Regions from separate parts of the Homo sapiens genome. Here all the other regions are reported to be linked to region 4. Evidence: microRNA targets listed by miRTarBase, many of them from high-throughput screens and not tested one by one. Region 4 holds a microRNA gene; each other region holds the end of a gene's coding sequence.

Evidence for each region. Region 4 holds the annotated microRNA hsa-miR-1273h-3p (CUGCAGACUCGACCUCCCAGGC, at 2,097-2,118, shown strand). A microRNA usually pairs through its seed, bases 2 to 8, with sites in the 3' UTR of a target mRNA and lowers its output. Matches are read on the target gene's strand: a 7mer-m8 pairs with bases 2 to 8, a 7mer-A1 pairs with bases 2 to 7 and ends in A, and an 8mer does both.
Region 1: the mRNA of FBXO21 is a reported target of hsa-miR-1273h-3p. Seed matches in the 3' UTR shown: 7mer-m8 at 915-921.
Region 2: miRTarBase lists ARK2C as a target of hsa-miR-1273h-3p. Seed matches in the 3' UTR shown: 7mer-A1 at 3,699-3,705.
Region 3: miRTarBase lists AFF1 as a target of hsa-miR-1273h-3p. Seed matches in the 3' UTR shown: 7mer-m8 at 979-985.
Region 5: the mRNA of FLVCR2 is a reported target of hsa-miR-1273h-3p. Seed matches in the 3' UTR shown: 7mer-m8 at 2,283-2,289.

The regions. Positions count from the first base shown.
Region 1 is chr12:117,142,654-117,146,653 of GRCh38, reverse strand. FBXO21 (F-box protein 21) reads left to right here. Exons shown (of 12, transcript NM_015002.3): 12 at 377-4,000. The coding sequence ends at 567. Among named protein-coding and RNA genes, the nearest start is that of TESC-AS1, 45 kb to the right of the region's middle. RefSeq lists enhancers at 3,183-3,262, 2,663-3,862.
Region 2 is chr18:46,456,413-46,460,412 of GRCh38, forward strand. ARK2C (arkadia (RNF111) C-terminal like ring finger ubiquitin ligase 2C) reads left to right here. Exons shown (of 8, transcript NM_152470.3): 8 at 107-4,000. The coding sequence ends at 224. Among named protein-coding and RNA genes, the nearest start is that of ARK2C, 120 kb to the left of the region's middle. RefSeq lists an enhancer at 1,722-2,511.
Region 3 is chr4:87,135,489-87,139,488 of GRCh38, forward strand. AFF1 (ALF transcription elongation factor 1) reads left to right here. Exons shown (of 21, transcript NM_001166693.3): 21 at 92-4,000. The coding sequence ends at 213. Among named protein-coding and RNA genes, the nearest start is that of KLHL8, 83 kb to the right of the region's middle.
Region 4 is chr16:24,201,090-24,205,241 of GRCh38, forward strand. MIR1273H (microRNA 1273h) reads left to right here and starts at 2,027; the gene lies at 2,027-2,142. All of the region lies in intron 16 of PRKCB (protein kinase C beta), which reads left to right.
Region 5 is chr14:75,646,166-75,650,165 of GRCh38, reverse strand. It overlaps FLVCR2 (FLVCR choline and putative heme transporter 2), which reads right to left. Exons shown (of 10, transcript NM_017791.3): 10 at 1,999-3,765. The coding sequence ends at 3,694. ERG28 (ergosterol biosynthesis 28 homolog) reads left to right here. Exons shown (of 5, transcript NM_007176.4): 5 at 1-375. Among named protein-coding and RNA genes, the nearest start is that of ERG28, 13 kb to the left of the region's middle. RefSeq lists an enhancer at 1,526-1,820.

The DNA.
Region 1 (4,000 bases), not on the chromosome of region 4:
GCCACTGCCAAAAAAAGAGCAGGCAGGGATAATGTTGTCCCATTGTCCAGTCAGAGAGACCTGTTGAGTCTCTAGTTTGCCAGTCCCCAAGAGACCTTTGGAGTTTTGCTGGAGCCAGACATCCTGCTTAGAGATGAGGAAGATCCTGCTGTTCCGTGGGGAGCTCTTGAGACACCCGTGCCACCACCCACCTTCTCCTGATTGCCACTTGCTGCCCTTTTCCCATTACCCTCTCCTGACTCCATAAACATCTTCAGTCTTCCCTTCTCCACCCCAAAAATGCCACCTGGAAGGGGTGATGGGAGGTTCTCTGGATGAAAGGTGTGGCAGCAATGGACATTGTAATGAGAATGCCCGTGTGCCTCTTTACCAACAGAAAACTTGGAATATAACGTGGAGCCTCAAGAAATCTCACACCCTGACGTGGGACGCTATTTCTCAGAGTTTACTGGCACTCACTACATCCCAAACGCAGAGCTGGAGATCCGGTATCCAGAAGATCTGGAGTTTGTCTATGAAACGGTGCAGAATATTTACAGTGCAAAGAAAGAGAACATAGATGAGTAAAGTCTAGAGAGGACATTGCACCTTTGCTGCTGCTGCTATCTTCCAAGAGAACGGGACTCCGGAAGAAGACGTCTCCACGGAGCCCTCGGGACCTGCTGCACCAGGAAAGCCACTCCACCAGTAGTGCTGGTTGCCTCCTACTAAGTTTAAATACCGTGTGCTCTTCCCCAGCTGCAAAGACAATGTTGCTCTCCGCCTACACTAGTGAATTAATCTGAAAGGCACTGTGTCAGTGGCATGGCTTGTATGCTTGTCCTGTGGTGACAGTTTGTGACATTCTGTCTTCATGAGGTCTCACAGTCGACGCTCCTGTAATCATTCTTTGTATTCACTCCATTCCCCTGTCTGTCTGCATTTGTCTCAGAACATTTCCTTGGCTGGACAGATGGGGTTATGCATTTGCAATAATTTCCTTCTGATTTCTCTGTGGAACGTGTTCGGTCCCGAGTGAGGACTGTGTGTCTTTTTACCCTGAAGTTAGTTGCATATTCAGAGGTAAAGTTGTGTGCTATCTTGGCAGCATCTTAGAGATGGAGACATTAACAAGCTAATGGTAATTAGAATCATTTGAATTTATTTTTTTCTAATATGTGAAACACAGATTTCAAGTGTTTTATCTTTTTTTTTTAAATTTAAATGGGAATATAACACAGTTTTCCCTTCCATATTCCTCTCTTGAGTTTATGCACATCTCTATAAATCATTAGTTTTCTATTTTATTACATAAAATTCTTTTAGAAAATGCAAATAGTGAACTTTGTGAATGGATTTTTCCATACTCATCTACAATTCCTCCATTTTAAATGACTACTTTTATTTTTTAATTTAAAAAATCTACTTCAGTATCATGAGTAGGTCTTACATCAGTGATGGGTTCTTTTTGTAGTGAGACATACAAATCTGATGTTAATGTTTGCTCTTAGAAGTCATACTCCATGGTCTTCAAAGACCAAAAAATGAGGTTTTGCTTTTGTAATCAGGAAAAAAAAAAATTAATGAACCTTAAAAAAAAAAAAAAAGGTTTTGAAGGGAAAAAAAGTGGTTTCACACCTCTTGTTATTCCTTAGAGTCACTTCAAGGCCTGTTTGAATGTGGCAGGTTAGAAAGAGAGAGAATGTCTTTCATTTGAAGAGTGTTGGACTTGTGTGAAAGGAGATGTGCGTGTTGGAATCTGCTTTTCCAAGCCGCCAGGGTCCTGACGGCAGCAGGACGAAGCCTGTTGTGGCGTCTTCTGGGAAAGCCTGACCGTGTGTTCGGACGGCACTGGCTCCTTTCCGAAGTTCTCAGTAACTGAGCCCAGAGTAACTGCACGCCTTTGTGCAGCTCTGGAGCTCCACCAACTCTCGGCCTGCCAGTTCTCAAGCGAGCTAATCTTGTCATTAATCGATAGAAGCTAACTTCCGAAGTTAGGACCTAGTTACTTTGCTCTCAACATTTAAAATAATGCAGTTGCTCTAGTGAATGGGGCGTTAGGGGCCTGTCTCTGCACCTGTCTGTCCATCTGCATGCAGTATTCTCACCCATGTTGAATGCCTGCTGCTTGTTTACCCTTTGGAAACCCTGGGGTGACCAAGGTTTGGAAAGCCACCTGAGACCACTTCATAGCAAGGGAAGGCTTTAAGCAGTTACTAGAAAGAGATGGGGATTTGGCCCCTGGCTCCTCCAGCCTGAATGAGCTATTTAATCCACTGTCCATGTTCCTCATCAGTCAAATCCAAAGTCAAAGGATTTGAACCTGCATCTGGAAACGTAACCACTCACAGCACCTGGCCCGCCAAGGTTGGGAGGATTGTACACTACTTTCATTTAAAGGGGAAAGTTTGATAATACGGAATTAATTAATATGAATGAGATGCATTAATAAGAACCTGAGCATGCTGAGAGTTGCAATTGTTGGTTTTCTGGTTTGATTGATTTCCTTTTTTCTTAGACACATCAAAGTCAAGAAAGATGGTTTTACCTTTACTGACCCAGCTGTACATATGTATCTAGACTGTTTTTAAATGTCTTTCTTCATGAATGCTTCATGGGGCTCCAGGAAGCCTGTATCACCTGTGTAAGTTGGTATTTGGGCACTTTATATTTTTCTAAAAACGTGTTTTGGATCCTGTACTCTAATAAATCATAAGTTTCTTTTTAAAAATTTTCCAAAACTTTTCTCCATTTTAAAAAGCCCTGTTATAAACGTTGAACTTTCACAATGTTAAAATGTTAAATATTTGGATATAGCAACTTCTTTTCTCTTCAAATGAATGCCAAGATTTTTTTGTACAATGATTAATAAATGGAACTTATCCAGAGAAACCACGCAAATGGCCTGCCCAATTTCGTTTGAGGACAGAAAGCCCAGCCATGACTTGAGTAGAATGTCTCTCACCTCTCTTCGGATCTAAATATGAAAAGTATGTTCTGCTGAATTTTTCTGAGCATTGGTGAGCGGACAGCCTACCTGTAAACCATGACCTCCTTGCCAAACGTTAATTTTATCAGCTCACTAGTAACCTTTGAGAATTATCTGGTTGTCATGCAAAGATTGCACTTTCTGAATTATGTTAAAACACATGTTGTAAAATGAGAACTGCTCATGCTTTGAAAGAAAACCAGGTTCTTCGTGCGTTCTGTTGCCGTTGATTTGAATGGCTGTGCTGTATACGATGTGTCCAGAATGTCTTCAGAGCACTGTTTCCGTGTGATGTTACTACCTACTATGTGGGAGGAAAAAAGGTTATAGGTTAAACAAAGTCAATTGACTCTATGGTGGTGTTTCTCAATACCTGTGACGCACAGTACTGTGCGTCGTGACTTTCTAAGAGAAGTGTGCAGCGGGTGTGTCATCTTGATATATGAAACCCTGGAATTTCCCTCCCCTACACGCACGCACCGTCCCCGGGGGTCCGGTGTTTGCAGACATGCTTTGAAAAGCTGTCTCAGTGAGACATCAGTTATGTCCAAAATGAGTTTACCTTAGAATCAGACCGGTTTTGCCAGGCGTCATGTTTGCAAACATTATCCACCTAATCAGATTTTGAAAGGCCGGCTTTCATGTCGCCTGCCTGAGACTCATAACAGATCCCCATTATAAGCGCGTTTACACAGCAAAATGATTTTATTGAGAAAACCAGCATTAAGTACTGTTGCCGGCTCAGTTTTCCATTGCATACTATCTACTTAAAGTCCCGTTCTCATTTGTAAGTGTTCCGATCTTTCCCCACGGAGAAAACTGAGCAGAGCTGCCGTGTCGCAGGCTTTCTGCTGCTGATGTCGCATCTCTTTGCTTTCCCCTCCTTAGTCCATACTCCAAGTAAGTGAACTCAGACTACCAGCAACTTTTTAACTGAAAAGTATCTGTCCATGATGATCAAGATGCAGCTCTTCGTGTTTTTATTTTGTCTTTTTTTTTTTTTTTTTTTTTTGGAGGGAAGGAGAGACATCA
Region 2 (4,000 bases), not on the chromosome of region 4:
CCCTCCATAGCCGGGCAGTTCCCCAGGAGTCCTAGGTGTGTGTCCCTGCTCCGCTCAGTGTCCCTCAGCTCTTGCCGGGCCTCTGACTCTCCCTCCTCTCTTCCAGACGCCTACCCTGTATGCATCTCTTTCACCAACTGTGCGTGGACCAGTGGCTCGCCATGAGCAAGAAATGCCCCATCTGCCGAGTGGACATTGAGACACAACTGGGAGCCGACAGCTGAGGGAGGAATTAGCCAGTGGACACCCCATTTCCTTCACCAGGTCCCCCCACGGCCATAGCCCTTGCAGCCAAACTTTGCCTTCTGAGCCATTTGACGTAGAGGAAAAGCCTGCAAGCACATTTTGTGGAAAGAGGAGTTGGTGGTATCGGTGTCGAGGGAGAGGAGGGGGTTGGGGAGGACCCACCTCTCCAGAATGGCGACTGTCCCCATCCGCCTGGCTGAGCAGGAGAGAGGGAGCTGGCGGTGCCCAGCGCAAGGGCGGGAAGGAGGGGCCCAGGCTGCGGAGAACCCAGGTGGGATCCTGAAGGCACTAGCTGACAGACGGGCCCCTCAATCCTGTCCTCTGAAGGATTGTATATATACCTCTCGACCACGTAGGAACCATGTAGGGGTCTCTAGCTATTTCTGTGGATGGCAGCCGGAGCATGTTAGCTTAAGAAAAATGTTGTGTGTGGTGCTCTAGTCATCTTGTGGTGGACATGTCGCTATTACCGAATTCGCACCAAATATTTCTCATTGAGTTTCTTGTTTTGGTGCCTGACCGAACCAACGACAGCCCCAATCTTCCCGTCTTTATGAGAGAAAAGGAAAAAGGAATCAAAGGTGGAAGAAAAAAAAAGCCAAATTCTGTTTACGGTGAAAAAGGATTTTGTTTTTCACCCAATTTGGGAGGCGGGAGGGGGGGGTTCTCGTTTTATTTTTGTTTTTGTTTTTACCTTGGCTTTTGTTTTTCTCATGTTTACAGTGCACGGAGTGTGGAAGGGGGTCTAGGAGAGGGAGAGCTGGAAAAGGAGCTGATGGGGTCTTATCCTGGCCTCTGAGGGTTCAGCGGAGGTGAGGAAGGCAGCAGAGCTCCAGCAGGTGAAGGGAGAGTTCATCTAGGCGGGGCTCCCCAGGCCCAGGGCTCAACTTCATGGCCCCAGCTATATCCCCCCAGTTCCACACTAAACCAGGGAGGGCTCGGCCCTCAGCTACTGGTACCCAATGTGTTCCTGGGAGCCGAGAGACCCATGGTCACTCCAACTCCTTCCTTTAGGCTGTGCTCTTGCCTGTCACAAAGAGGCAACGTAGCCACTGCCTCCCTATGCAAAAAATTAACCAGATGATGCAGATAAGACAGCATAGGTGATGGCTGCTTGGTCTTGGCCACAGTGCTCTCAGCCAGCACTAAGGGCTGAGGTCAATACCGCAGACCTTGGGGAGGAAGCTGAGCATCCCCCGGGATGTCTCCAGTCCTGACACAGTCCCTCAGAGATGGCCCTGGCTCTGAGGTCACATCAGCTAGGTTTGGGAGGCCCCTCAGCTTGGTTTGGGAGTGCCCGTGTTCCTGGTCTCTGGCTGCTTCTCTGACTCTTTGATAACCTTGGGCAAGTCCCTTTCTTTCTCTGTGCCTCAGTTTCCTTCTCCTTTGAGGGGGGAGAGAGAACAGTGCAGCCCCATTTCCGGTCCTGCTACCTCACCTAGATGTTGTGAGGATTCATATTCTCTGTCCAGCGTGTTCTATGCTCTCTTCTGAGAACCTTGTGGGGTGTCGGGATGGGGGTGCTGGGAGACACAGACCTGATACAGTATGTCTTTCTGCACCACCTCACAATTTTCCTGAACCCCAAAGGGAGCAGAGAGATAAGAGGACAGAAGAATGGAGATGGGAAAATCCACCAAATTCCAACCCAAACCCAACTTTCTTTCTCCCTATGTGGAAGACACCAGATTAGCTGGAATTCTGCCACCTTCCTTTGTGCCCCACCCCCCACTGTTCCCTCATTTGCACTGCTCTGTAAGCCTCCCCCTCACCTCCATTCATAACCCAGTCTCAATGCCCTCGTATCAATAAGACCGGGGTAAGGGGGACAGGATACTTGTCACATATTTGAAGAAATTCCATACAGTGAAGGAAATTTGAGTCTGTATTGCTGCTACAAGGGTAAAACCAGGACCAATGGGTAAAAGTAACAGGCGGGCAGATTTTGGCTTGAGGAAGAGCTTCTAGCACGACTGGTTCATGCGGGAATAGCTGCTCTGGCCACCTGCAGGCAGAAAGTGGGGGAAGTGGCTCCTGGCAGGAGATTTCTCCCAGCACTAATATCCTGGTGTTCTATAAAATCTTTATTGAGTGCCTACCGGTGCAGGCGCTGGGAGAGACAATAGCTTTGAGGAGCTCACAATCTAGCTGAGGAGACAAGACACATCCAATGCTGCAAAAATGGTGAATAACCTGATTCAGGGTTAGCAGCAATGAGTATCACAGCGTCCAACTCAGTAGCTCCAGTGTATGAAAATGTCTCCAGGGCTAAAGGCTGGAGATCTCACCAGTGGGGAAAGTACATCTGAGTCAGGATTTTGGGGGAAAGCTAGTTACTGATAGCCACAGGAAGTTGAGACTTCTGCCCCATTCTCTCCAATGGCTGGGTGAAAACCAAGAATTCATCGGAAGATGGCTTTGGCCTGGAGGTAGCTAGGGTGGTCTAGGAAGCTCACTCCTCTCTTAGTCTCAGTCTTTCATTCTTTCTGCTGAGACTGGCCTGAAAGGCTGGCAAGTGGGAGGGAGTCAGTGGGGAGGCCAGGATAGAACTAGAGCTGGTGTCCCAGGTTCCAGTCTGGGCTCTTCACTGACAAAGTGGGCAACACTAGAAACTTCCCTTTGTCTCTCTGGGCCTTAGTTTCCTCAGTTACAACCTAAGGAGGTTGGATTGGATGCTTGCTAATTTCCTTCTGACACTCACACTCCCTAACATCAACACATCTTCAAGGCGGCAGAGCTGTGCGCCCACCCAGCTATTGAAAAGGACTTTCTGTGGGCACACACTCTGTTTCAGACTGGGCTGGGGGCACACGTGCTGGGTGAGACAGTGGGCCCTCGTCCCCTCCCCCCTCCCAATTCTCTGCCCCAGGCTAATATTAGGGACTGGGGAGGGGACCACCAGAGGGGAGAGGGAAGCTGCTTACTTTGGGGGTAGACCCTGAAGCCCCTCCTCCTTCCCCCACAGATGGGGACAGGAGGTGATGGGGTGCTCAGAACCCTGCAGCTCCCACTTCTTTAGCCGGGCAGCTGTTTGGGGGACAAGAGAGGGCCAGGGTCTGTGCTTCTGCTCCCGGCACTGGTCAGGGAGTCTGGGAAGAGTGGAGAAGAGGCAGGGTCAGGCCTCAGCATCTCACATCCACCACCTCCAGGAGGGGAGACCACTGGTAAGTCCTCCTCCTGCTCAACTCAAGGGACTCAGACCCTTTCTTGACTGAGACGCATGAGTGCCTTCTGGGGTGAGAGCAGCCCCAGGGTTTAAGTTGGGCGTCCTAGCAGCTGCAGCAGCTGTGCCGCCGCGGGTCCACCGAGGACGCCAATCAATCAACCCAACACCACAAGCTTGGTTGGGTGCAAGCAGAGGGTGAGCAGGGGCTGCCCCTCCACCTGGCCAGGACCCCCTTCGGCACCCAGTTGCCCTTGGCCACCACCTGTGGCAGGACTCAAGCTCCTCTTCTGCAAATGTTCCCAGCCTCCGTGCAAGTATTCTTAACTCTTTACGCCTAATGAACAAGCACAGTTTTTCAATGGTGAAGAAAAAAGCACCAGACTTTTTTTCTTTTTTTCCTAAAGAAATCCCCTAAGCCCCCCGCCTGTAGGCGGGACAAACACTCCCTGCGTGGGGCTGTAGCAACGTCTGTCAGGCCCCCTTGTGTTTCATCTCCTGCGCGCGTAGAGCAAATGCTAGAGCGATTTCAGCTGATAGAAAAACAAAAATGAAAAAAAAAACACAAAAAACAAAAAACATGGCACGTTG
Region 3 (4,000 bases), not on the chromosome of region 4:
CCTTCTGGAACCTTGAATTTTTGTTTCCATTTTAATTTTTGTGTGTGCTTGTGTATTTACTTGTTTTTGTTTTGTTTTGTTTTTTTTGCAGAATTCTTTGCTCGGCTCAGCACAAATGTGTGCACCTTGGCCCTCAACAGCAGTTTGGTGGACCTGGTGCACTATACACGACAGGGTTTTCAGCAGCTACAAGAATTAACCAAAACACCTTAATGGAGCCCCAGGTTGATTCAATGCCTTGGGAACTATTTTTGCACATTGGAAGCCTCAAAAACAGTCCAGACATTTGTTTCATCAGGACACCAAACTCTAAAAAAGAAGCACCACGAGATGGCCAGGACATTTGTCCACTTAAACTCTCAACAACAGTGTGATCATTGGTTGGACACTGTGGTTATGCAGAAGCAGAGATGAGGAGGCTGGCCCCAGAGATGATCTTGCCCTTCCTAACTAAAGGACAGAAGTGCAATTTAGCTTAAATGGGTGTATGAATGGTCTAGAAACATTTCTATTTTTTTTTTAAACCAGCAGGATACAAGTTGCAAATGAAATGAGGAGAAACAGTTTCAACTCTGAAAGTGAATTTCACGTCATCTCAGTAGCCACGCTAGTCCATTCCCAGAAGGAAATTTTTTTTTTTAACAATGACTTTTGGTAAAGGGTTTTGTGGATGATTTTTTTTCTTTTGAGTTTTGGGAGAAATATTTGTTTAGTAACTTCTAATGGCCATCTGTAAACCATAAGTAATGAAGGACTCCACTGTGCCCCACTTTCTGCCAATGAACAGTGGCTTGATAATACCAAGTATTGTTGTAATTTATAAAATTGAAGGCAACCCCCGCTCCTGCCGCCCCCAATCTCCCCATTGCCTAGAGCGCTGCACATTGACCCCAGCTCTGACTTCTCATTACTGTGCTGAAAGTCAGCCCACGTCGGAGCGGTGAGGAGGAGCCACAGCACATGGGGTGCCACCTCGAGGTCTGCACAGGAGGACTTGGCGCTGCCATTTCCTACCCCTGCCATTTCCCACCCCTGCTTCAGCGAAAGGGACTCTCTAACAGGGCAGTCACTGTTGACTCTATTCTGAATTTCCTCCCTTGGGGAAGAAGGGAACCAACATTTATACCTGACCAGATGGCTAAAGTGCTTTTAAAGTTTTGTTTAAGTAGAGCTGGAATTTGAGGTGCTGATCTGTGGTCTACAGTTATGTGGTAACTCATGTTGTCCAGCCAACTCAGAGTTTCGTCAGTGAACAAGAAACATGAAATCTGCTTCTTAGAGAGGCTATATTTTTCTGCTACAAATATTTTATATTTATAGCAAAACTAGACTTTCAGAGTCCTTGATTGTCTAGGGGAAGTTAACTCCCTGAGAGGATGTAGAGATTTGGGGTGGTTGATTAGACTTTTGAAAAACTCATCACCACATGCCTTCACTCCAGAGTGTTCTCAGCTAGATTTGATTTGGTTGAGGAGGAACTGTGGCCCTCCGTAAGTTATTGCCATAGTGTATGCATTAAACCAAGTCCATTTTGAATGACCTAAAATGAAGTAACACAATCAGAAATCCCATGTGCCCATAAGCACAGATTTTTCTTTTTCATTGAAACTTTAAAGGTTATTATTGGAAACATTACTTTGAGTGCAGTGTTTTTAAAAGCCAATTCTTTTTTATCCCTTTTAGAAGTAGAATTTGCACACTTACTACAATTGAGGAGTGTCATCTCTATAACTTTTTCTCCGCCTTTGTCCCATTCTGCCCCTGTACATGTTTCCTACCAAGCATGTTTCACATTTTCCTATTAGTGGAGGAGGGAGAACCATATTTATTTATAATGAAGACATCTAAGATCCCTATGATGAATGCAGGAACTCTCTTGGTAGTTTGTAAATACACAAAGGGATGTGTCGAGGGATGGGAGCGATGCTTATCTCTCACAGTGTGAGTGGTCTGTGTGAGGCTGTTCCTTCAGTTTCTTCTCCAGACTGTTCTTTGGTTGTCACTAAGTCAGAGGTCTGGTCCCTCATGTTTAGGTGAAAGCCAGAGAATGACAGCTGTAGTCATATCTGAGCATAAGACCTTGATGTGTGATTCCTGATGACCGGTTTCATTTATTCATGTTATAAAGCAAAGCCCTGGTCCTTTTTAAACTACTAGTTTTAAAAACCTGTGTTAAATGAACAGTAATTGCCTGGTAGGTTTGGTGTGTGTGTAGCATTGTGTGTCCATCTGTTATATGTAAAGGACAAGGCACCAGAATCAGGCTTTATTTCGATATTGAAGATGTTATTTAACATCTTTCTTTTTTCCTTACTCCCTTAGCCATCCCCTCCCCTTTTGTCCTATCATTCCCTAGAACAAGCCACCTGTCAATTGTGAAGGGTTGTGTTCTTTATGGCAGGTTCTATGCAGATTGTGCCAGAGCATGTGCGTGTTCTGTTGGCAAGCCACAGTGCTCCCTTGACTGAAGACATTTCCAGGTAGATTTCTCAGCCAGCTCTAAAACAGATTGCTTTTTCAGTGGCCTTACTCTTTGTGGGTTTTTTTTTTTTTCTCTGAACTTGATATAAAGATTTTATTTGTCCCTTGAAAAAGTAACAAATGTGCATAGATCAATTTGTACTACTTTGGTCATTGGATATTTCTGATCCTTATTGCATTGTACCTAAAGGAGAGTAACTAATGGTAACCTTTTTAATAGAGTATGTGAAAGGTAGTGGCTGATGAATCCTTAACGTTCATAGGGTCTTTTTGCTGTTACGGTTGTATATAGAGGTCTGAAGGATTTTTAAAATGATTTGCACTTTTTCACTGCATGCTTACAATTCCCAAAGGCAAAATCTGTACTGAGGTAGATCATTTGAAAGGGCTAGATTATAAAATTAAGCCTTAGAGTATGGAAAGTTCTTATAACAATAATAGTACACACTTCAGAGTAAGACAAATGCAAAGCATCTTAAGGAGTGAAAATAGAGTGTAAATCTTGCCTTTGGCACTACAAGGTGTGTGTGTGTGTGTGTGTGTGTGTGTGTGTCTTTAGTAGGAAATGGAAGAACACTGTTTTATTTTTTAAAGTGTTTAATGTTTCTGTCCTTTCTGTGAATTATTGAATTTAAGAGCCCTGCTAAATAATGAAAAAACACTTTACTAAAATTTATCAAATTATACTGGGTTCGGATTGTGAAAACATTGGCCACCTAGTAGCAGTGGTGAGGAGTGGGAGGGCCCAGCAAGCATTTATCAGAAATAGAATCACAATAGGAGGAGAATTTGACTGTCTGATATTATGATTTGATTACAATACTGAATGGGAAAAGTATCTAATATTTTGTAACAAAAAGACCTTCATATTATCTGTTTTGACCAAAATATGTAGCTATTTCCCTTACACAGATTGGACCGCACTTATCTCCCTTGTCCTGTATCCTTTAATTTCAGGTCTCAGGATGTTTAGAAAGCTAAAACCCCCTACCCCTTTCTGGCTGAAAACTTGCCTTATTTGGTATCTTACACATTAATGTTACTAGCATCAGGAGCTTACTGTTTTATTATGATTCATCTTCAGTAATTTTTAGAAGCAAGAAGAAAGCCATTGTGTCCTCTACAATTAACAAAACTTATCTCTGATATACAAAGGGATATAAATATATACACTTAAATAGAGAAAAAGAGGTTGATTGAATTGTGCCTTTGAGTGAACCCAGTTTTTAAATACCGCTGTGTTTGTTTCGCCATGGCTTCAGGGATGCTACATGGCTCTTGCACCTTTTACTCCTCTGCTTTATGAAGTTTGAGTTGTATTTGTGCATCTTAAAGTAGGTTGAGGCTTGAGGCTGGGCTTTCGGGTTTTTTTGTTTTTTGTTTTGTTTTGTTTTGTTTTGTTTTCTTGTACTTAAACCTGCTTGCTTCCTACCACAGATTCTTTATTTTCCCAAACACTACAAAAAAACTTTTAAAACTTTGCCATTTCATCTGTTTACACTCTTTGCCACTGATTAGC
Region 4 (4,152 bases):
ATCTCTGTCTTAGCAAATATGTTTTCCCTCCCCCAACTCATGTGAGACTTACCCTCACTCCTGCTCTGGACTCCAGCCTCTTGATCCTTCATGCTTATCTCCCCTGTTTAGTCTGTCTACAGCTTCTCTCTGTATCAACAAAACTCCTATGGTTTCAAATAGGAATCTGATTTAAACTGACTTTTAAGCAAAAAATAATGATAGTTAGTATTCAGATGTAGATGGATCATCTACATCTGGTCCCAAACAATGCCAGCAGGGAAACATTTATCTATATCCCTTAGGATTACTTTCCCCACTGTGTTGACTTCATTCTTCATTCTCAGAAGGCTTTCTTGGGCACATAGCAACTCCCAATTTATGTCCCATTATCTCTGCAACTTCTACCAAAGAAAAGGGCTTCCTTTTTATAAAATCCCAGCAGCCTAGGACTCAATCTTTTTGGAAGATTATTGGGTCATATGCCCATCTCTAAGGGAATTGCTCACTGCACCAGGGGGATGGAATGTGCTGATTGACCGGGCCTGGGTCACCAGCCCCTCTTAGCCAGAGAGCTGGATCTAATCCAGACATTTTGAAAAAAGAGAAGGAATGTCCTATCTAAATCAGACATTTTGAAAGAAGAGAAGGAATATCTCCTTTAAGAAAAAAAAGCCACTGTCATGGCCGGGTGTGGTGGCTCACGCCTATAATCCCAGCACTTTGGGAGGCTGAGGCGGGTGGATCATGAGGTCAGGAGATCGAGACCATCTTGGCTAACACGGTGAAACCCCATCTCCACTAAAAAATACAAAAAATTAGCTGGGCGCGGTGGCGGGCACCTGTAGTCCCAGCTACTCGGGAGGCTGAGGCAGGAGAATGGCGTGAACCCAGGAGGCGGAGCTTGCAGTGAGCTGAGATAGCGCCACTGCAGTCCAGCCTGGGCAAAAGAGCGAGACTCCGTCTCAAAAAAAAAAAAAAAGAAAAAAAGAAAAATAAAGCCACTGTCACTAGAAGAAAAGACAATGCCTGCTGGCTGGGCAAAAACAGCAGCTGTCCTTTCTGACTCTATCCTGGCCTTCTCCTTTGTGCATAAACCTGCTATGTCTTTTTCATGTTAAAAATCCCCTACCTCAAACCTGGGAATCCTCCTTACTACTACTCTTACTACTGCTATGATTACTACCCTACCTTACTTTGCATACAAACACACTTTTGAAAGAGTTGCCAGTTCCTGCTATTTCCACTTGATGACAATTTATTGTTTCCTCAGTTTGGTGCAATCTGGCTTCTGCTCCCGCCATCCTATTGATATTTTTCTCATTGAGTCATCAATGACCTGAAAACTGCCTCTTCTCATAAGCTTGTCTCATCTTTCTTGACCTCACCATATTATTAGGTGCTCTAATCCTTTCTCCTTTAAAAAAATGTGAAAAAATAAAATATTCAAGCAGCATCAGAAGCTACAAAGTGAAATTAAGATTCCCCTCACCCATGGCTCCTAGCTAGGCTTCCTGGTTCTCCTTCCCAGAGACACCCATTGCAACCAGGTTCTTGTGTGACCTTCTAGAGAAGATGTGTTCAGGCCCAGAAATAGTCTACATCACACACAAGGATGTTAGCATGCTGTGTACAATTTCTGTATCTTGCATTATTCCCCTCTGTCTTGGAGATTGTTTCTTATCTGCTTATCTAACTCTACATCACCCTTTGAATAACTTCCTAGTTTCCTATATAAGTGAGTTTATCTGTAGGAAAAGTTCAGAGTGCCTTCTTTCTTTTTAAGCCCCTCTTCTCCTTCATTTTTATGACATTGTGTGTCTGTCTTAGTCTGTTTTGTGCTGCTATAAGAATACCTGAAACTGGGGCCTGGTGCAGTGGCTCATGCCTGTAATTCCAGCACTTTGGGAGGTTAACATGGGCAGATCACTTGAGCTTGAGCCCAGGAGTTTGAGACCAGCTTGGGGAACATGGCAAAATCTGTCTTTACACACACAAAAATTACAAAAATCAACCAGGTGGGGTGGCACATGCCTGTAGTCCCAGCTACTTGGGTGACTAAGGCAGGATTGCTTGAGCCTGGGAGGTCAAGGCTGCAGTGTCGTGGTCACAGCTTGCTGCAGACTCGACCTCCCAGGCTTAAGCAATCCTCCTGCTCGAGTGACAGAGTGAGACCCTGTCTCAAAAAAAAAAAAGTGGATAACTTACAATGAAAAGAAATTTATTTGGCTCATGGTTCTGGAGGGTGGGAAGTACAAGATCAGGGGCTGTATCTGGGGAGGACCTTCTTGCTGCATAGTAACCTGATAGAAGGCATCACATGGCAAGAGAACACATGAGGGAGGGTAACTTACTTTTTAAATAAATTCACTCCCACAATAATAACATCAATCCAGTCACCTCCAAAAGTTCCCACCTCTCAACACTGTTGCATTGGGGATTAAGTGTCCAGCACAAGAACTTTGGGAGAACACATTCAAACCATATCACCACATTTGCTGATGTTCTTCCTACCTTCACAGCCACTCCCAATAGAAATTCCAACTCCACAAAGACTTCCAGTGACAGTTGAATTTGGAGGGTTGAGACCAGCTCATGACCCAGAAAGGAAAACAGAAAGCTTACTTTTTGTTTTGTTACAAGTGCAGTCTCTTAAAAATAACCACAAAATGCCCCCCCAAATGGCATATGGAAAACAGCACAGAGATGGTGTGTTAATCTACCTGAAATGTCTTTCTAAGGAAGTGAGGCTTGGATGGGAACGGAAATGCATCCCTTTTTCTTCCCAGGGTACACGTCTTTTTCTCACTTCCTCTAACTGGGAGCCCCAGGGCCTGGCTTTGTCTTGTAGCTTCCTGCCGTGATGCACCAGGCTAAGTGGGAAGGTTTCTGTTCTATGTCTAAAGTAGCACTGGCAGGTCCTCATTCTGCTTGTAATTGGGATGGGAATATGGGTAGGAATTTAGGGTTTGGCAGAGCGTACAGGACCTCTTTCAAGCCAGAGCACAGCCCTGTCAGACTTACTCACTGGACATGAATGGGTCAGTCAGCCCTCAGCAGTAACCACCAGCTACCATGTTAAGTATTTGATGTGAATTTTATCAAGTCATTCTCGCCACACCCTACAAGAAACTTGAGCTTAGGGGACTTAGCTAACTTGCTTGAAGGTTGTATAGCTGGGAATTGTTGGAGCCAGGATTGGTACCCAGGTTAGCTTAACTTTTAAGTCCGTGCCACACAATCAGATACATAGTATGAGGCAATGGGATGTAATGGAAAGCCCATGGGCTTTGGAATTGAACAGATGGGCTCTGGATCTTGGCTCTCCTACTTGACCCTATATGACCCTGAACAAACTGTTAACTCTTAAAATTATCTGTTAAGTAGAGATAATCCTTTTCCTGCCTATCTCACAGCCTTGTGGGAATCAAAGCTATAAAAAGATAGGCAAATAGAAGGGATAATTACTATTTGAGGGTGAGTTTACTTGAAGCCAACAATGTGGGTTTAGGATGAATGGTGAAGAATAGATAAGAAAAAAAATGATATTCTGTTGACATGGGAAGATGTTTAGAGTGTATTTCATCTAGTTTCTTTTAAAAAGCAAGCAAAAGAACAGAGTCATGATTCCACCTTTGTCTAAAAACTAAAAAACATCCATTCATCTATTCATCCAGCCATCTAGGATACAAACCAAGATGTTAACATAATACAGAGATTTGGGGTGGCGGGATTAAGAAGGATTCTTTTGTGTGTTTTAAAATTTTTTATGGCCAGGCACAGAGGCTCATGCCTGTAATCCTAGCACTTTGGGAGGCCAAGGCGTGCAGATCACGAGGTCAGGAGTTCGAGACCAGCCTAGCCAACATAGTGAAACCCCGTCTCTACTAAAAATACAAAAATTAGCTGGGCATGGTGATGGGTGCCTGTAGTCCCAGCTACTTGGGAGGCTGAGGCAGGAGAATCGCTTGAACCCGGGAGGTGGAGGTTGCAGTGAGCCGAGATCGTGCCACTGCACACCAGCCTGGGCGACAAAGTGAGACTTCATCTCAAAAAAAAAATTATTATTATAATTCCTTTTTTTTTTTTTTTTTTTTTTAGAGACAGGGTCTTACTCTGTTACCCAGGCTGAAGTGAAGTGGAACAGTCATAGCTCACTGCAGCCTCCAGTTC
Region 5 (4,000 bases), not on the chromosome of region 4:
GATTTTTTTGTTTTTTAGAGACAGGGTTTCACTCTGTCACCCAGGCTGGAGTGCAGTGGCACAATCACACCTCACTGCAGCCTCAACTTCCTGGGCTCAAGTGATCCTCCTGCATCAGCTTCCCAAGTAGCTGGGACTACAAGTGTGTACCACCACATCCAGCTAACATTTTTGGGGGTGGGAAGAGATGGGGTCTTACTATGTTGTCCAGGCTAAGAGGTGGGATTTGAGCTGAGACTTGAATGCCCAGGAGTTAAATGTCTTAAGATATGGAGCAGGCCGTTAGAAAGGAGGGAGCAGCAACTGGAAGGTAGAATAGTCTTATTCAAGGAATAAGAACTATGTAATCACAGCATGGTGAAGAGTTAGGAAGTGAAAGAAAAGGTCAGAAAAGGAGGCAAGGGGCTTATAAGGGTGTGATAAGAAGCTTGATGTTTACACTTAAATACATTGGGAATTCTCTTATCAGTTAAGTCTCTTTAGGTGAAAGGACAAAACCTACCTTAAACTAGCTTAAACAATAAAGATAGCTGGCTCATATAACTGAAAAATTACAAGATTAGCTTCAGGAAGGGTTTGATCAAGACTCCAGCTCCATTTCTTTACGATTCTTTCAGCACTACCTATGTGTGCTGGCATCCTCAGGCTGACTTCTTTTATGGTACCAAAGTTGGTTGCAGAAATTCCAGGCCTCATATGCCCAGAACACTGTATCTAGAAAAATATCTCAATGGTAAGAACTATCTTTTCTTTACTTGTCAGCTATATTGTTAGGAGGCAGTAAAAAAGCAGTGATGACAGTTAATGTTTGAACACAGATCCACATGAAGACCTTATGAAAGGAGTGAATGAAAACATTGGATGATTTAGGTCCTCTGAGCATGTGTCATGAAAATGTGATGCCCTGGCCGGGTGTGGTGGCTCACGCCTGTAATCCCAGCACTTTTGGGAGGCTGACACGGGCAGATCATGAGGTCAAAAGATCGAGACCATCCTGGCCAACATGGTGAAACCCCGTCTCTACTAAAAGTACAAAAATTAGCTGGGCATGGTGGCGTGTGCCTGTAGTCCCAGCTACTTGGGAGGCTGAGACAGGAGAATTGCTTGAACCAGGAAGGCGGAGGTTGCAGTGAGCCGAGATTGCGCCATTGCACTCCAGCCTGGCGACAGAAAAAGACACCATCTCAAAAAAAAAAAAAAAAAAAAAAGTGATTCCAGATTAGTAAAGGCAGGGACCCAAAGGATCTAAAGAGATGTACAGTTAGAGTATTTAGCAGACACTATGGATATTAGATTTCTTAACAGCCCAGGCTTGGGTCCCTTCCTAGATCATTTAAAATAGAATCATAATATTGTTCCTCCCCAGCTACGAGTTGCTATAAATATGATGCTAGAATACCACAGGCACAGTACAACTCTCTATGGAAAGAATGTACAGAACACAGATGATAGTAGCAGCATATTCAAGTAACACGCACAAGGTGATCACAACTGGGGAGGGATGAGTAACAGGACGTTGGCCAGTTAGGAAGAAAAATGGTAACGCAAGACTGCAGCTGCTGGGACTGAGCCATGGGCCCCAGCCACAGCAAGCTGATGCATGGCTGAGGTAATCAGAGAACAAACATTTCAACCACCCTTTGAGGCAGAGCCAGAAACAACAGTGGACTCTCTCATCAGCAGTCACTCACATTCCAGCGCGTACACAGCATGGAAAGAGGTCAGGGTCGTGCTGGATGTTGAGTTGCAGTCCCTCCATGTAGGCAAACAGTAACCTTTACAGCCTTGTCTTTAAAAAATATCCCTCCCAGATGGTAAGGTCTGGCAACAGTGAGATGCTCCTGTGGAAGACCACAGTTGCTGCTTCTCTAGCCTCACACTCCCCCGCCCCAGCCCAGCCCTTCCCCACACCTAAGACAGGAGCCTCAGGAATGTGTGACAGTCTTGCAGGGACTTCTAAGAGCCATCTCTGCCCCACTGAATGATAAGGCAGACCACTTTCTGAGAAGTTTTTATTGCCTCGAAATGTCAGATCTTACAAATAGAAAACACAAATTATGTTTTTAAAATAAAGCAATAGGTTTGGTAAACATTTTGTTAATACCTTTTGAAGGGTTTATGAGTAAACATCTTTCTCTTTATCAAAAAGTAAAGCACACCCTCACCTCTCTTCCACACTGACTCACTACTTCTGCCGAAAACGTGGACTTCTTTCTTCTATTACATACAGCATGTTCCTTGCATCCATTGCTTGAATCTGTACAAACACACACACACACACATGCAGACACACACAAACCTGGCTCCTCTCAGGCAGTGGCCCAAGCACCACAGTATTGCAGCCAGCACAGGCTGCCCTGATATGCTGAGGCCAGGGCAGTGGCTGGAGCAAGACAGCACAGTGGTCACGATCACAGTTGCCCAATGCATAGGAAAAATTACCAAAACCTCATTTTTAGGAGATATTACCAAAGCCCATGAGTACAGCCAAACAGCAGGCTAGATAGGAAAGATCAGCTTGAGTTGGTTTAAAGGGAATCCCTTTAAGTTTAGAATATCTGATAAAGATTATCGCTCAAAGCAGGTGAGGAGAGGGGTTGGTGGTGCAAATACTGTCCCCAGCAGAGGTGAGATAAGCTTTTAATTCTAACAGGCTCAATTCCCATTTCAAGGGGCACCTTTCCTTCTACCCCTTCCCTCTTATCTCTCAGAAGCACCTTTGGATTTTCAGAGTAGAATGAATCAAGATTAGTTTTCAGCAAAGGTTAGAGTAAGTTGACGGGGATTACCCTGCCTTGGAATAAAACAAGCACTTGGGCTGATGGCTGAGATTCCCAATGCAACATCAAGATAAAGGCATCAGAGGTGACTGTGACACACAGAAGTCCCTGGGGAAGTACTTCTGTAAAAAAGAACCTTCCCATTCCCAACTCAAGCTACCAGAGTTCCCAAATATGTGCTTTCACAAATATACTCAGAAGGTAGCCCCCAGCATGATCACACCTAGGTAGGTAGCCCTCCTGAGTCGGTATCTCTGTCATGGCCACAACAAAGTCTTTTGTCAAGTTTATTATGGTTGGTTTGCTCAGCTCTTAGGAAAGAGGGTTTGGAGACAGACCCGTTAGGCCAGGAAAATTTAGGCCCACAAGTCCCGGTGGAGCTGTTCTGATGGAGTTGTTCTAATGGTGCTTCCTCTCCTGCAGAACTTGAGCAATCAGTCCGATGACCCAGGAGATGACCCCGGCAGAGCAGCTTGCCACTTATTAGAACTGGGCTTCATGAGAGGCTCTTAGGACACTGGAAATTTCAAGTTAATATCCTGAATAGGCTTTCTTCCTGTGAAAATTTTGCAGGCATTGTCCACGATGGATGGAGGAAAAGAGGGAAGGCAAGAGACCAAGCTAGGATTGACTCCAATATTCTCTGCCACCCTGTCCCAACACCAACTCCCATAACCTAAAAGGGGGTGGAGGTGGGAATCAAATTTGCATTTGGTGATAGGTGCAATTTTCTCCAACTAAATCATCCAAGCTCTTACGTGGGTTCTAGGAGGAATAGGCCATCCATGCCACAAATAGTCCCACTGATTCCCTCCAAAAACATCTCTAGCGAAGCCCTTTGTGCTGGCGGTGAGAGCTGTGCTGAAGGAAAAGGTGGGGTGTTCGTGTTCCCTGAGTTGTCACCACCTTCCTCTCAGAGATGATCCTCTGACACAGCAGTGGGCACTTTGCTGGTGTTGCTCTCCTCCTCCTCCTCTTGGAGTTTCTATAAAGCAAAACAAACAGGCAGTGCTGTGGGTAAAGGCACAGCACTCCACCCTGGCTGGAGCAGCTGCCTGGCCATGACTAATCAGTGGGGAATACAAGAGCCGGGGGCCACTCAGCATCCCAGAGAGCCAAGAAAGAGAACAAGAAAAGAAGCAACCAGCCCCTGCCATAAATGCACCCACAAACACACACCACCCAACATCATGAGGTCATCAGAGGGAAAAAGGGGCAAG